2 separate regions of the Homo sapiens genome follow, and region 2 is linked to region 1. The links come from fine-mapping of genetic effects on gene expression. A gene starts in region 1. The other region holds a variant in brackets. All regions are shown on one strand. Distances are from middle to middle. Region 1 holds the start of ACTR10 (actin related protein 10). Region 2 overlaps ARID4A (AT-rich interaction domain 4A).

The links. PIP is the estimated chance that this variant, and not a neighbour inherited with it, causes the effect.
Region 2: its variant is fine-mapped to the expression of ACTR10 in cerebellar hemisphere (GTEx, PIP 0.93).

The regions. Positions count from the first base shown.
Region 1 is chr14:58,196,406-58,205,004 of GRCh38, reverse strand. It overlaps ACTR10 (actin related protein 10), which reads right to left and starts at 4,856. Exons shown (of 13, transcript NM_018477.3): 1 at 4,711-4,856; 2 at 2,078-2,150. The coding sequence starts at 4,787. RefSeq lists enhancers at 4,474-4,663, 5,284-5,413 and a silencer at 4,824-5,213.
Region 2 is chr14:58,336,359-58,344,957 of GRCh38, reverse strand. ARID4A (AT-rich interaction domain 4A) reads right to left here. Exons shown (of 24, transcript NM_002892.4): 12 at 191-263. Among named protein-coding and RNA genes, the nearest start is that of ARID4A, 42 kb to the right of the region's middle. The variant C/T (reference allele first, on the strand shown) is at 5,074.

The DNA.
Region 1 (8,599 bases):
AGGTGATCCACCTGCCTCAGCCTCCCAAAGTGCTGGGAGTGAGCCACCGCATCTGGCCAACATGTGTTTTTATAAAACCAAATATGCTTATATGCGATTGCTAAAAAAGGAAATAATGTCAGAAAAATGTTATAGTTGTATTAGTTAATATTAGGCAAGACAAGCTATAATTATAATGGAAGTATAACTTTCATCAAGAAAAAGAAAGTCATCAACTCAGTTATCACACAGGTAGATATGCTTTCAGATCTATTCATAAGAAAAGTGTAAATAACTCCCTACACCAGCAATTCGTGCCTCAGAGTGGATCCATGACTCTGTTGGGTTGCATTTCCTCCTAGTTGCTACTTAATAACAGTCCCACTGGCTCAGAGCTTGCTACCATCTGCACTGACTCAGAACCCACTGGCTAACATTTTCAATCCATGACTTTTATTTTTATTTGTTTATTTTTGAGACAGGGTCTCACTCTGTCGCCCATGGTGGAATGCAGTGGTGCAATCTTGGCTCACTGCAGCCTCAACCTCCTGGGCTCAAGTGATCCTCCCACTTCGGCCTCCCAAGTAGCTGGGGACTACAGGTGCGCACCACCTCCACGATTTTATTTTATTTTATTTTTTTGAGATGGAGTCTCGCTCTGTCGCCCAGGCTGGAGTGCAGTGGCGCAATCTCGGCTCACTGCAAGCTTCGCCTCCCGAGTTCACGCCATTCTCCTGCCTCAGCCTCCCAAGTAGCTGGGAATACCAGTGCCTGCCACCATGCCTGGCTAATTTTTTTTTTTTTTTTTAGTAGAGATGGGTTTTCACTGTGTTAGCCAGGATGGTCTCGATCTCCTGACCTCGTGATCTGCCCGCCTCGGCCTCCCAAAGTGCTGCGATTACAGGCGTGTAATCTGCCCAGCCCACAATTTTATTTTTAATATTCCCTAAGACAGCCTCCAGCCACACTCAGCTGCCTGCCAATCCTATTTAAATTTTGTGGAGGCATCAATTATTGTTTTTGCTAGTCCTCTGATTACAAAGTTACACAGGTTTTATATGGACTACCTCAAGCTTATTTTTCCCATAAGCCTGTTTTGTTTTGTTTTTTAAAAATGTACCATTTTGCAGAACAAAGGTATTTTCTGGAATGCATATATAATGTTACTGTGGTAACAGCTACATCTCATTTTTTAACAAGTGAATTTTATAACATGCAAAATCATTCTTTCTACTGGTTGTAATTTCTAATCTGCCAAATTAGCTGTGGCAAGAAACTTTTTGAAAGTTTGTTTTCAAAATTCTCTGGGTTTTGAAACTGTAAATAAGGGAATAAATATCTGATATATTATAAATAATAAAATAATTCAGTGGTTATAAGACTTATAAAAGTATTTTACTGAAGTTAAAATTTTTCTCTTGATATATGATTCCATTTACATAAAATGTACAGAAAAGACAAATCTATAGAAACAGAAGGTACACCCTAATGGGCTGAGGATAGGAATGAGGATTAATTGTAAACGGGTATTAGGGATTTTACTGGGGTGATGAAAACATTCTAAAACTGGATTGTGGTGGTACTTGTACAACATGATATACTTATGGTGTGCAAAATTAGACCTTGATAAAGTTGATTTAAAAAGAAAAACTTTTCCTTGGAAATATAGCCACAAAGTATATATTTAGTACTGTTTCTTGTTTCTTTTTTTTTTTTTTTTTTTGAGACGAAGTCTTGCTCTTGCCCCCCAGGCTGGAGTGCGATGGCTTGATTTTGGCTCACTGCAACCTCCGCCTCCCGGGTTCAAGCAATTCTCCTGCCTCGGCCCCCTGAGGAGCTGGGATTAGAGGTGCCTGCCACCACTCCCGGCTAATTTTTGTATTTTTAGTTGAGACAGGGTTTCACCATGTTGTCCAGGCTGGTCTCAAACTCCTGATCTCAGGTGATCCACCCGCCTCAGCCACCCAAAGTGTTGGGATTACAGGCGTGAGCCACCACGGCTGGCCTTTAGTACTGTTTTAATCAATCTTACTTGAAGTCATATTTTAAAACATTTTATAGTATGGCATTTATTTTGCTAATATTTTTTTTTAAATACCTTAGGCATCCCAGCTCTTTTTATCACACTAGGAATTATACATCTTGGACCAGTTTCTCCAGCAAATCCACACCTGCAAATAAATGGAAAATTGAAACAACTTATAGTATTCTTTTAAATATTTGTCACAGAAACTAATTTTCTCTGTATTTGTTTCAAAACAATGGCCACAATAACATTTGAAAATACCTGATGTATTTTAAGGGATCAAAAAAAATCACTCCACAAAACTAATAATACTATTTATTAATGCTTGTGTATTAACAGAAAAAAATTCTATGAAATTCGTGATGCTGAAAAAAACAAATGTATTATTTTAGGGCAGCATTTACTTTTTTTTTTTTGAGATGGAGTCTGGCTCTGTCACCCAGGCTGGAGTGCAGTGGCGCGATCTCGGCTCACTGCAAGCTCCGCCTCCCGGGTTCACGCCATTCTCCTGCCTCAGGCTCCTGAGTAGCTGGGACTACAGGTGCCGGCCACCACGCAGGGCTAATTTTTTTTTTTTTTTTTAGTAGAGACGAGGTTTCACCGTGTTAGCCAGGATAGTCTCGATCTCCTGACCTCGTGACCCGCCCGCGTCGGCCTCCCAAAGTGCTGGTATTACAGGCGTGGGCCACCGCGCCTGGCCAACTTTTTTCCTAGTTGTTAATTTTAGCAGAATTTAGGCAAGACATATCTACAACTCTGAATCTGTACTACATTATGTGACTTCATTCATATAATTCATCTGTATCACTCATAATTCCATCATTCTAATATTGTTAGCTTCCATATTGGTGTATTCACTTTCAGTCTACTTCTTATGATTATGCATATATATTTGACATAGTTTTAATCACACTTCATACATAATTAACTCATACAGTAAGCTTCTGCCCATATTAACATAATCTTCATTGCTATCACTTTTTTTTTTTTTTTTTTTGAGGCAGGGTCTCGCTCTGTCGCCCAGGCTGGAGTGCAGTGGCACAAACTCAGATCACTGCAGCCTCCGCTTCCCAGGCTCAAGCGATCCTCCCCCCTTGGCCTCCCAAAGTGCTAGGATTTCGGGCACGACACTACCGCCGGCTAAATTTTGTATTTTGTGTAGAGCTGGGTTTCCCCATGTTGCCCAGGCTGGTCTTGAACTACTGGGCTCAAGTGGTCAGCCCGCCTCAGCTTTCCAAACTGCTGGAATTACAGTATTATTTTTAAAACCACATATTTCATTATTTTAAAAACGATGCTCTTTTCTTGAGTATTTAGGTATTTCCATTTTTGTTTCATGTTAGTAAAACAAAAATTTGCTAAAAACGTTGCTAAAAATGATCATCATACTAGTTTAGTCTTAACATCCTGTCTTCTTGTCCTGTCTAGTTTTTGATACTGCTCTCCTCGTATTCCCAAATAATTCTCTCCATCTCCTCCTATTCCCGTCTCCATGTTTACTTGCATCAGTGCTCCTCAAACATCTCAGAATGCAAGCCATTAGACTTCAATTCCTTTTTTTTACTTCATACATTTATCTTATCATCCTCCTGCTGTCTTTTTCAAATATAGCTTTTTGCTTATTTCTTCCAAGTACAGCCAAAATAATTATCTTTGACTAGAAGCCTCGAACTGTTTATTACGCTTTCAAAATAATTTTAATAAGAAAATATAAATAAGGAAGGGCCTCGCATAGAACAATAAGAGAATGTCATTAACCAAGGACTATGTTTAATCCAATTCTGGAGTTCCTGGGGTCCAATTTTTAAATAGGCTCTTTTAACCACTTAGTCAATAAATAGTTATTAAATACCTACTACACGTCAGGAAGTGCCTAGAGATATAAAAAGATTTTTCAAATGTTTCATTTTCATAAATACATATATGATGTAATTGCCTGTTACTTCCCTCTCTGTTGAGCCCATCACAAGGACTCTTAATCTAGGGTCCCAGGACCACATTGATTGTCTGCCAATTCCCTGAAACTGTGTATAAGTACCTTAAGATTTGTGCATTTGTGGTTTTCATCCAGCCATTAAAGAGATCTATGCCATCCGAAAGGTTGAGAACCTCCTCTCTATTGTTTACAAGTTGGTTTGTTTAAAACATGTCAAATCTAACCTTCGAGTTTAGGGGAGCCAACAAAGGATTTCCAGAATCTTATCTATAGGGTTTCACCTCTTAATGTGCCCAGTCTCCCTAATTCTTGAGCAGCGATAGCCCTGTCTTAAACATCTTTCCATTTTCAGCACCAAAATAAACTCCGTTCAATATTTTATGATGAAATTCGTCATCGAGCATTTACATTCGGTTGGCTGCCTTCCTCAACTGAGGAGCCCAGGGTAAGCGGGGTCTAGGTCACGGTTGTCATCCCCTACACAGATGATCCCAAAGGGTTTGTTGGGTTTGGGGTGATGACAAGGGGCGGCGACGAGGGCAATTCAACAGAAGCTTTCTGGGCCTCTCTGGGAGTCAGACCCCGATCCTCGGATTCGCATCGCCCAGGGAGGAAATAATAAGAGCTGTTATTTGCAAGGGCGCTGGTTGAAGAAAAGGGGAGGCCCGGAGCTGCCCAGCGAGTCGGCGATGAGGACCCAGGCAGTGCCTGGGGCTCTGCCACCCGCCCTCCCCTCGGGTCGAACACAGCTGGCGTCACGGCCACTCACTTGGTAAAGGCCTCTCCCAGGTCGATCACGACCGCCGTCTTCTCCCCGCCGCTCCCCAGGCCCTCGTAGAGCGGCATGGTAGTAAGGCAGACTGAGAGAAGAGGGTCGCAGTCTCCGCGGCCAACAAGTCTCGGCGCTCGCGGGGCGGGGCCGGGGCTCCGGCGCTCGGGCGTCGGCGACGGCGGGGGCCTCGCGCGGCCGCGGCGCGCCGGGCCCGGGCTGTCCCAGGCTGTGCCTCATTCCGCGTTGGACCCACCCTTGCAGGTGCTGCCGTCGCCAGGACTAGGGGAAAAGAGGCGCTGGCGGGCGCGAATCCGAGTGCGGGGGCGCGGAGGCCGCGGCGATCAGGCGCGCCGGTCGCCCTGAGGGGGCGGAGCCGGCCTCCCTATCCTTCCCTCCCACCACGCCCCAAAGCCGCACCCACGCGCGGCTGTGAAGAGGTTCGGTCTCAGCTCACTGTGAAGAGGTCACTGAGGACCTGGCTGCCAAGGGGCAGCCGAGAGACGACGCAATTCCGAACCTTTGATTCATGCTCTTGGGGGGCAGAAGATGCTGAGACCCTATTCTGTGCTAGGCGTTTTGCCTAATATTTAATCTTCTCAAGAAATAACAAGAATATGTGTTTTCTTATCTGTGGGGACCGACGCTCAGAGAGATTAACTTTCCCAATGTCCCACGGCAGAGCCAGGAACAAACCCACAGACTTCCTAATTGCAAAGCCTATGCTAATGATGCTTTAGAGAATAATACGTACAGACAATACTTTAGTTAGTAGTCTTTCTGAAAGTTTTTATTTTACTCCAGAATTAAGCAGCTAGAGTAGCGTCTGTGAATCTTGAATCTGTCCATAGAGGAGCGGTCGGGATGGTTTAATAGAAGAAACATTGAAGCAAAGGCCCCTATTAGGTTGGTGCAAAAGTAATTGCTGTTTTTGCCACTACTTTTAACATTTACATTACTGTTTACATCTTTGTCACTTCACAGCTTTCTGTGAAAATATTTTTTTCCTGCAAATATTAGCTCTAACTGTATCTATGCATAGGAGTGGAAAAGACTGTCAAAGGAGAGGCTGTGCAATAAGAAAAGAGGTTCAAGGGTAAATCGGTGAGGACTAGCAACATTTAGCTGGTGTACTGGGTTGAATGATGCCCCCCCCCCCAAAATTCTTGTCCACTGGGAACCTCAGAATGTGACCCTATTTGGAAATAGAGTCTTGGCAGATGTAATCAAGTTAAGATGAGGTTATACTGTATTAAGATGTCCCAACTGTCCGAGCGCAGGATCACACCTGTAATCCCAGCACTTTGGGAGGCCGAAGCGGGAGGATCCCTTGAGCCCAAGAAGTCTAAAGCGGCAGTGAGTCGGGATTGTGCCGCTGCACTCCAGCCTGGGCAACAACAAGAGTGAGAGCCTGTCTCTCAAAAAAAAAAAAAAAAAAAAAAAAGGCCCTACTCTAATGGTTGGTAACTAGAGTTAGCGGGGTAGTTGGGGATAAGCTATTTCCATAACAAAAACTAAGGCTGTAACAATGCAGAAATTTGGAATGTGATATTAGTAAAATTCATGTTTAAGTCCAAATTACTGATCAATGATCCTCCTTGAAAGCAAATTCCTGGAGACAGGAGAATGAAGTTGGAGTTGTGACGGGGAAGAAAACTTTAAGAAACGTGGGAAGAGATTAAATTTTTTGCTTAATAGAGTCAGATTATTTGAATAGGACCCCTTACTTGAGTTCAGATTCTGTTTCTGCCACTTTCTGTCAAGTCCCTAATACCTCTGATCGTCCACTTCCTTATCTGTAAACTGTTCTGCTGCTTCACAAGGTATTTGTAAGGATCAATTTGAAATTATGTTTCTGAAACTATTGAAATGATGAAGTTTGTTATTACCTATTCTATGTTTTCCATGACAGCTCACCAGCTGTATTTGTTAGCTAGGGACTGCCGTAACAAAGTACCACAAACGGTGGTTCAAGGAAACAAAAAATTTATTCTTTCACACTTCTGGAGGTGAGAAGTCAGAAATCAAGGTGTCAGCAAGAGCAAGGTCATGCCCTCTTTGAAGGCTCTTGAGGAGGATCCTTTCTTGTCTTTTTTTTTTTTTCTTTTTTTGAGATGGAGTCTCGCTCTGTCACCCAGGTTCGATCTCAGCTCACTGCAGCCTCCGCCCCACCAGGTTCAAGTGATTCTTCTGCCTCAGCCTCTGGAGCAGCCGGGATTACAGGCACCTGCCACCACGCCCAACTATTTTTTTTTGTTTGTTTTGGATTTTTAGTAAAGATAGGGTTTCACCATGTTGGCCAGGCTGGTCTCGAACTCCTAACCTCAGGTGATCTGCCTGCCTTGGCCTCTCGAAGTGCTGGGATTACACCGCGCCCAGCTTTTTTTTTTTTTTTTTTTTTTTTTAACAGAGTCTCGTTCTGTCATCCAGGCTGGAGTGCAGTGGTGCAACCTTGGCTCACTGAACCCCAGACTGGGCTCAAGCAATTCTCCTGCCTCACCTTCCCAAGTAGCTGGGACTGCAGGCATGTGCCACCTTGCGTGGCTAATTTTAACATCTTTTGTAGAGATGGGTTTCACCGTGTTGCCCAGGCTGGTCTTAAACTACTGAGCTCCGGTGATCCGCCTTCCTAAGCCTCCCAAAGTGCTGAGATAACAGGCATGAGCCACCGTGCCTGGCCTTCTTTCTTGCCTTTTCCTAGCTTCTGGTGGTTGCTGGCAATCTTTGATGTGCCTTTGCTTGTAGATACATAACTCCAATCTCTGCCTCTGTCATCACTTGGCCTTCTTCGCTGTGTCTGCATTTTTCACATTATGTACTCCTCCCTGTGTCTTCACATCACTTTCCTTCTGTGTGTGTCTCTGTGTCCAGATTTCCCTCCTTTTTTCTTAATTGTTTTCTTTTTTATTTTTTCTGTATTCGGCTGAACAAATTTCCCTCTTCTTGTTTATTTTTATTTTTATTTTTTTTGAGACGGAGTTTCACTCTTGTCGCCCAGGCTGGAGTGCAGTGGCGCGATCTCAGCTCACTGCAACCTCTGCCACCTAGGTTCAAGCAATTCTCCTGCCTCAGCCTCCCAAGTAGCTGGGATTACAGGCACCTGCCACCATGCCTGGCTAATTTTTTGTATTTTTAGTAGAGATGGGATTTTGCCATGTTGGCCAGGCTGGTCTCGACTCCTGACTTCAAGTGACCCGCCCGCCTCGGCCTCCCAAAGTGCTGGGATTACAGGCATGAGCCTCTGTGCCCGGCCTCCCTCTTCTTCTGAGGATATCAGTTACTGGCTCAGGGTCCATCTTAACCCAGTATGACTTCATCTTAACTTGATTACATTTGCAAAGGATCTAATTCCAAATATAGTCACATTCTAAGATTTCTGTTCACACGAATTTTGGGGAGGACACTATTCAACCCAGTACACAACCTAAATGTTGTTGTTCTCCATGGTTCTGCTCTTGAACCTCTTTTCTTATTGTACACCCTCTCCTTTGCCAATCTCTTCCACTCCCATAGATACAGCTAGAGATAATATTTGTTGAGTTCTATTTGCTAGCTCTCCTTGCTATATATGATCCCATTTATTCCTCACAGCAACTTTATGAGTTAAGTGTTATTGTTACTAGAAAGGGGTCTCAATCCAGACCCCAAAAGTGTTCTTAGACCTCGCACAAGAAATAGTTCGGGGCAAGTCCATAGAGTAAAATGAAAACAAGTTTATTAAGAAAGTAAAGGAATAAAAGAATGGCTACTCATAGGCAGAGCAGCAGCGTGAGCTGCTTAACTGCTTATACTTATCATTACTTCTTGATTATATGCTAAACAAGGGGTGGATTATTCATGGATTTTCTGGGAAAGGGTTGAGCAATTCCTGGAACTGAGGGTTTCTCCC
Region 2 (8,599 bases), 140 kb before region 1:
AAGGCTGCAGTAAGCCAGGAGCAAATCACTGCACTCCAGCCTGGGCATCAAAGCAAGAACCTGCCTCAAAATAAATAAATAAATAAAATCCAAAACTGTTTATCTGCAATACTAACAAAAACAATGCATATACCTAGAATGTAAACATGAAAAAGAAATGACTACTTTAAAATAATGAGCATGAAAATACCTCTGTCTTCCATAAACTTATAAAGCTGCTGGAGGAAGTTGTCCCTCTCTTCAGGATCAAGTTCTTCCTCAGGCTGTAAAGATAAAATATATAAATGTATGGCACAGTGAACTGGAAAAGATACATGTCTTCTTTTATTTTTGTGAACCCAATGTAAAGTCATCAAATTTTAATAAAGCTGAAAAATCTGAATTTTCTCAATATCCTACAATGACAGATTTTAAGTCATATTTATGAAGATATACAATGTCTACCCTTCACTCCATTTACCACTCTAACTCTACTTTTCAGTATCACTGTAAGGACTAAGATTAGCCAAGAGGAAAACATTCAGGAATAAAATGGGAGTGTTACGTTTTCACCTCACCTGATATATTTTTTTTAAAGCCCATTTAAATACTATGTGGCCCACACAAATATACTGGCAGATGAGCACAATAATGACACATGTTCATTATATCATATATTTATATATAAAAATAATTTTCATATAAACATAGTTTTTGTTATTGCCAGATGAATATAAACCAGGGATTGCAAAGTCACAGTGGCAAAGGATTTCTGTTTAGATGGCACAATGTTTTAAAGATATTTAAATACATTTAAGTGAGTCATATACATTCTATTTTACCCCAGACCTCATCACCCCCTCATCTCACAATAACCTGGTTTTCTCTTTTGCCTTTCTAGTATGGCCCCTGTACTTGACTTTGCAACACCTAAAAATAAGATAACAAAATAATTCCAGAAGTAATTCTTAGGGAAGGAAACTAGATACATAATTACTGATTTAGCTTCTTTTAAAATTCTTAAAGTTTAGCACTACTAGAGAAAAACAAAACACTGATATGTTTCCTCCATATAAATGATCATAACTTAGAGTATTACTCTCCTCTGTTCTAAAAGAAGAGCTCAGATTTTTGTCTTTTTTTTTTTTGAGATGGAGTTTTGCTCTTGCTGCCTAGGCTGGAGTGTAATGGCACGACCTCGGCTCACTGCAGCCTCTGCCTCCTGGGTTCAAGCAATTCTGCTGACTCAGCCTCCTGAGTAGCTGGGACTACAGGAGTGTGCCACTACACCTGGCTAATTTTTTGTATTTTTAATAGAGAAGGGGGTCTCACCATTTGGCCAGGCTAGTCTCAAACTCCTGACCTCAAGTGATCCGCCCACTCCAGCCTCCCAAAGTGCTGGGATTACAGGCATAAGCCACAGCACCCAGCCTGGATTTTTGTCTTTACAAAGCCATATTCAAAACAAAGGCAATGCTCAAGCAATAAATGTTGAGTCTTCGGTGTCCAGAGGGCAACAGGCACTTTAAAATTGTGTTATCTAATAGCTGATAATACAGCCAGGATCAATAAGCATGTAGTTGATCAAAATATATAATAAAAAACCATGAGGCAATCAAGAGAAAGGGAGTAAGATCTTTTATTACATTATTTTAGTACATTCATTCATAATGATTTATAACACTAAAATACTTTTACCAAATATAAAGAAATTTAAATATAAGTTCTAACCAAAATCAGCAATTTACAAAGTTAATAATCACTATAAAGTAGTTAGTGAAGGTCATTACTTAATGCTCAGATTAAGAGATGGCAGTTTTTTCCCCATGTGAATTTAAAAATCTTGCTTTTATAAAGTTAACTGCCAATGAGTTAACTCAAGAAAATAGGTAATTCAGTAGCCCAAGAACCACTTCACACATTAATTTTAAGAACTTCTAGCGTGAGGAAAAAAAATCAAAACCAAAAACCACTTATGCCAGACTGGCTCTATGCTTTGCCTGTGCCCTGTAATCGTAATATTCTCTCTTCAGACGAAAACTTCATTCCAGTATTTTTTTTTTTTTAAAGACAGAGTCTTCCTGTCACCCAGGATGGAGTGCAATGGCACAATCTCAGCTCAGTGCAACCCTCTGCCTCCCGAGTTCAAGCGATTCTCCTTCCTCAGGCTCCTGAGTAGCTGGGATTACAGGCATGCACCACCACACCTGGCTAATTTTTGTATTTTTAGTAGAGACTGGGTTTCGCCACATTGGCTAGGCTGGTCTCGAACTCCTGACCTCAGGTGATCCACCCACCTTGGCCTCCCAAAGTGTTGGGATTACAGGTGTGAGCCACTATACCAGGCCTCATTCCAGTATTTATGATCCTACAGAATTCAGGTAACACTTCTATATTCAATATATGTAAAAGCAATTCTTTAAAAAGGCACTAAAATCAAAGTTGCTCCCCAATACAAGTAAACAAAATCAACTCATCAATTGCAAATTAGGTTGTACCCAACATTTGATAAATTTTTAATGTTAAGAATATATTTTTATAGATAAAATTTGATTTATGTGTATTTTTTTTAAAAGTTAGTGGGTAACCAAGAGTGCTTTAGGTTTCACGAGAAACTATGGCTGTAAAATTGTAGTTTTGGTACAGTTAAACAAGATATAAATGAATAAAGAATTCTACTTACAAACAAATGCCTTGAGGGGAAATTTCTTTTCCACCAAAAATAAATAAAACATGATGCTATAAACAAAGTTTTAAACTTATCTGATGTTTCTGTGAAAATTAAAATTGCTTATCTCTTACAATAAGCCACTCCTCAAAATTATTTTTGAAAACTAGCCTTGCTGCTAGTCACCTTGCAGTAAAACTGCATATGCTAGAGAACGCCTCCAATTAGAAGAATGTGCCTTCGTGACTTTTGTATGGGGCTCTTAATTGCTATCACGGTTTGCTTTCTCTGTCCATGGCATTTTCATAGCAATTTCTCTGCTGGTGAAGGCCTGGCACTGTTGCATCTTTCAAGGGTTTTGGAGTGCGAGAGGGTTATAAGAATGGGAGGTAGAGGTCCACTAGACCATCTGAGACTTCTTCCCTTCATTTAGTCATTTACATTTATACATGTAAAGAATAACTATGCACCCAGTAAAATGCCAGAGATCCAAGAGTCACATTCATGATGATAATTTCAAGAAATTTCCAATTTTAGTTAGTATTAGTATATACTGCTTAGTATTATAAGTAGTTGGATATCTATCTACACTACTAGATTGTGAATTTTTTGACTTTAGGCACATGTCTTCAGATTAAGCTCAAACATCTACTAATGGTTACCATGAATCAGAGATTGTTCAAAAGCACTGTGGATTAAAATGAGAACACATGGTACCTTCTATTTTTGCTGCTCTGAGTTTGGCAGGAGGTGTAGAAAGGTAAAAGAAGCCAATATAACACGATGTGGTAAGTGTTGTAAAATACATCAAAGAATACAGGAGGAGCAAGTGAGGGAATGAATGGTTTTCCTCGAGATGAACTGGCAGTGGTAGTATTAGGCAGCTTCAAAATGTAAATAGTAGACAGCCCTGGAGCTACAGCAAATGGGCAAACAGCGTAAGCATGAAACTGACAAAGGCAGGCTGGGATTAGGAAAGGACTTTGTAATAGTATGCTAAAGAAACAAAACTTGATACTGTGGCTAGATGTGAAGCTTGAGACAGCTAAAGAGAATTAGATCAGATTTGTATATTTAAAATTTCTCAGCCAAGAATGAGTTTGATGGATTGGAAGGGAAAAGGAAGCCATTATAACAGTCCACAAGGAAGAGAACGCATGCCTGAATTAGTCCTGCCAGCTGGGATGGAAAGATCACCTCTTCCCATGAAAGGAAGAGGAAGAGAGAGAGACAGAGAGAAAGACAGAGAGACTGATGGAGGGATGGGGAGAGGGAGAGAGAAGGGGAGAGGGAAGAAAAGAGAACCACTGTGCCTGACTTACTCACAATTTTACGACTAATGACTGCCATTTAGTTTAGACATTACTCATGTGAATGAAAATGATATCTGTGCAAATGAATTGTGTAGAGTTTTCTTGCTTCACATTCATTGAGTATGAGAGCTAAGATTTATGATAATATAAATGCAAGAGTCAGAGAAAGAGAGGAAATAAGAATAGTTGAGGATGTTCTTAAGACACAGGTGGGGCCGGGCACGGTGGCTCACGCCTGTAATCCCAGCACTTTGGGGGGCCAAGACAGGTGGATTACCTGAGGTCAGGAGTTCGAGACCAGCCTGGCCAACATGGTGAAGTCCCGTCTCTACTAAAAATACAAAATTAGGCCGGGCACAGTGGCTCATGCCTGTAATCCCAGCACTTTGGGAGGCCGAGATGGGCGGATTGCCTGAGCTCAGAAGTTCAAGACCAGCCTGGGCAACACGGTAAAACCCCATCTCTACTAAAATGCAAAAAATTAGCTGGGCGTGGCGTTGTGCGCCTGTAATCCCAGCTACTCAGGAGGCTGAGACAGGAGAATCACCTGAACCCAGGAGGCGGAGGTTGTAGTGAGCCAAGATTGTGCCACTGCACTCCAGCCTGGGCAACAGAGCAAGACTCTGTCTCAAAAAAACCAAAAAACCAAAAAACCAAAAACAAAATTAGCTGGGCATGCTGGCGTGCACCTGTAATCCCAGCTGAGACTGCGCCACTGCACTCCAGCCTGGGCAAAACGAGTGAGACTCTGTCCCAAAAAAGAAGAAGAAGAAGTAGAAAAAAAAAGACACAGGTGGTTATGGCCCATGACTTGCTGGCATTCACCTTATCCCTTGTCCAAATATATAAATCTGAAAATGAACGATTATTCATTTGGAAATGGCAAAAATTCTAGTAAACAGACTTCCTACCATTTTAGTGGGATGGGAAACTGATATGGTTTGGCTCTGTGTCCCCATCCAAATCTCATGTTGAATTGTAATCCCCAATACTCGGGGAGGGACCTGGTGGGAGGTGATTGGATCATGGGGCAGATTTCACCCTTGCTGTTCTCATGGTAGTGAGGTCTCATGAGATCTGGTTGCTTGAAAGTGTATAGCACTTCCCCCTTTG[C/T]GTGCTCATGCTCTCTCTCTCTCTCTCTCTCTCTCTCTCTCCTGTTGCCACGTGAAGATATGCTTGCTTCCCCTTCACCTTTTGTCCTGATTATAAGTTTCCTGAGGCCTCCCCAGCCATGCCTCCTGTACAGCCTGTGGAACTGTGAGTCAATTAAACCTCTTTATAAAATACCCAATCTAACAAAGTTCTTTATGACAACGTGAGAACAGAGTAATACAGAGACAAATACAATTTGAAAAATAAGATATCTTATTTTTGTAGGAGCTATTAACTTTCTTAGCTAGCAACTCTAGTTTCCAATACACATTAGGAAGGTGGACAGATAGTGTCCAAATTGTCAAAATATGTCAGTAAAAGATGATGAACTTTACCCAAAGCTCCTCAGACCCATGTAACTTGTACACAGTTCTAATTGGTGGCTTGGGATAGTTTCCTAGCGTATAACATATCGGAGCCACAAAAATTGACATTTTTAAAGTGAGGAAAGGTATAACTAAACTTGATCTTTGTGGTTTCCCTATACTGTGTATTGTATGTAACAGAACATATTGTTGATGGGTATTCTCAGGTTTCAAGAACCTCTATGGGAATCCCTTAAAATTTTTGGTCAGGCTCAGTGGCTCCTGCCTGTAATCCTAGCACTTTGGGAGGGCCAGGCAGGAGGATCACTTGAGCCCAGGGGTTTTAGACCAGACTGGGCAACATAGCGAAACTTTGTCTCTATAAAAAAAAAATAATAATAAATTAGCCGGGCATGGTGGTGCATGCCTATAATCCTAGTCCCAGCTACTCAGGAGGCTAAGGTGGGAGGATGGCTTGAGCCTGGAAAGTTGAGGCTGCAGTGAGCTATAATCACCACTGCACTCCAGCCTGAGAGGCAGAGTAAGACTGTGTCTCCAAAAAAAAAAAAAAAAAAAGTTTTAATAATTATATAACACCCCTACCTTTTGTGTGTATTGGGGGTGGGGGGTGGGGCGGTGTACTCCAGTATACCACTCATTTTTTTCAATACCAAAGGACTTTTTTTTGTGCAATAATGTTACTTTGGACACAAGCAACTTTGTTTCCCCTTCATGATAAATAAAAGTAAGATCTTTTATTATATTCTTTCTTTTAGTACATTCATTCATAATGATTTATAACACTAAATACTTTTACCAAATATAAAGAAATTTAAATTTCTTTATGATGCTGTCTATAGTCCCTCTTCTGGCCCTCTTCATGGGCTACCCTTCTCACCCCAACTCTGAAACTCCATCACAAGTCCTCACACTCCTCAGCTCTTACAACCCCTCCATCCCCTCTCCTTCATCCCTACCACCTCCAAAAATGAGGCTCAGTTTGAAGGCAGCAGGAAGAATCCCCTGAAATGGGCAGATCCCTATCATGGAAGGAGAGATGTTAAGACAGCACCCTCCAAGCTCCACTGTGGGGAGCTAAGCACTGCAAGGAGTACATCAGAAGTGGCAGCTCTGAGGACATGTCTGGACTGGAGGACTCACGGGAAGGAAGCAGCGAATCCAATAGCTGCTTACATTTTTTGTATAAAATTTTAAATTTATAATATATTAAATAGTGTGATTTTTTAAAAATGTGAAATACTAAAACTAAGGTAAATGCATAGAACATTTGTAAGCTGTACTCACCCACTTTAATTCAAGTAGAGCCCTCTTTGTTCCTACAGACATCTGTTGAATTTTTAAAATCTCAGCTGTTGTTTATCATTTACTCATTTTCTGAGTTTTTAAAACTTGCGTTTTATCTTTCCTATTATATTTAATACTAACAAAGGGAATGGGCAACACAAAGGCAATATTCAATGTAATGTATCTTACAGCTCAACAGCACCTTCTGAACAATATCTAAGTGGCAGCAGGGGAGCTATAAGAAGTCCCATATCATGGAAGAATAATGGAAGGGAGAATAAAGAGGTGGGCATGGGTCACATCATGATCAGGCAGACTTCTAAAGGCCTGTGATAAAAAACCCAGACTTCGTCCTGAAGGTGCTGAAAGCCAATAAAGGGTTACCATCAGGAACCGCCTATGTTTTATAAAGATGTTTATGGATAATGAATTCGAAGGGAAAACACCACAAGGAAGATACCTGGAGTAAGTGGAACAAAATACAAGCAAGGAGCATTGTTACTCAATAACTTTTACTACAAGTGACAGAAAACTATCCCAAGATGGCTTAAGCAAAAAATAATTTATTTTATAAACTCACAAAATTATGTAAGAAATTGAGATTGCCTACAGAGTACACAGCCTGAGAAAAGAGATATTATAAAGGGAAGTTAGATATCTTATCCCTTAGTTCCCCCTGCCAAGGTGAACTTTCTAGAACCTTATAACAAATCTCCCACCACCTTGTTTCAAAGAGTAATTTACTACAACAATTGCATAATCCACATTCATTCATTTAATGAAGGTTTAATATGAGCCAAGCAAGCTCTGTGTTGATAGCTGTTAGGTATATATACTGGTAGGAAAAGGAAAAAACAAAAATCCTGAGATCCCCTGCTTTCACAGATCTTACAGTCTAGAGGAGGAGAGAACATTTTCTTAAAAGCTTGTAAAAAATTCTGAAACCTCTCTAAACCTCGGTTTTAATTATATATATATATATATATATAAATAAAGAGAAGGTTCTAGGAGATTTGTTGTAAGGTTCTAGAAAGTTCACTTTGGGGCTGGGCGCAGTGGCTCATGCCTATAATCCCAGCACTTTGGGAGGCAAAGGTGGGCAGATCACTTGAGGCCAGGAGTTCGAGACCAGCCTGGCCAACATGGTGAAACCTCGTCCCTACTAAAAGCACAAAAATTAGCTGGGCATGGTGGCACATGCCTGTAATTCCAGCTACTGGGAAGGCTGAAGCATGAAAATCACTTGAACTCGGGAGGCGGAGGTTGCAGTGAGTGGAAATCGCGCCACAGCACTCCAGTCTGAGTGACGGAGTGAGACTGTCTCAAAAACAAAAAAAAAAGAAAAGAAAAAAGAAAAAGAAAGTCCACTTTGGGAGAAACTATGGGATAAGGTATCTAACCTCCCTTCATAATCTCTCTTTTCTCAGGCAATGCACTCTGAGGCGATTTCATATGTATATATTTATTTATATACATATTTTCATAGACTGTTGTAAGGACTAAACAAACAGTCTTACTTTAAAAACCACCAAGTCTCCATGAATAAACTAAGAACATTATTTGGCGTGGTTATCTTTACTTGTTTGTATCTCCTACAAAAGGTAAACGTTTTAATAGTGGTATAATGAAAGGTACATCTTGATGTATGTTCTCGTACAACAGATATATTTTGTCACAACACCTTAGGGAAACAGCAAATAAAGACAAATTTAAAAAGAAAGCTTAAAATTTTAAACTTCAGTTAAACTTCACGTTTAACTTAAAGTGAAAAGCAAACAAAACAAATAGTAAGTCTGGCAACTCAGGTGAGCCATAGGTCAAAATGACTACATAGGTTATCAATAAGCCCCATCCCAAGTGGAATTCTGAAGAACTGT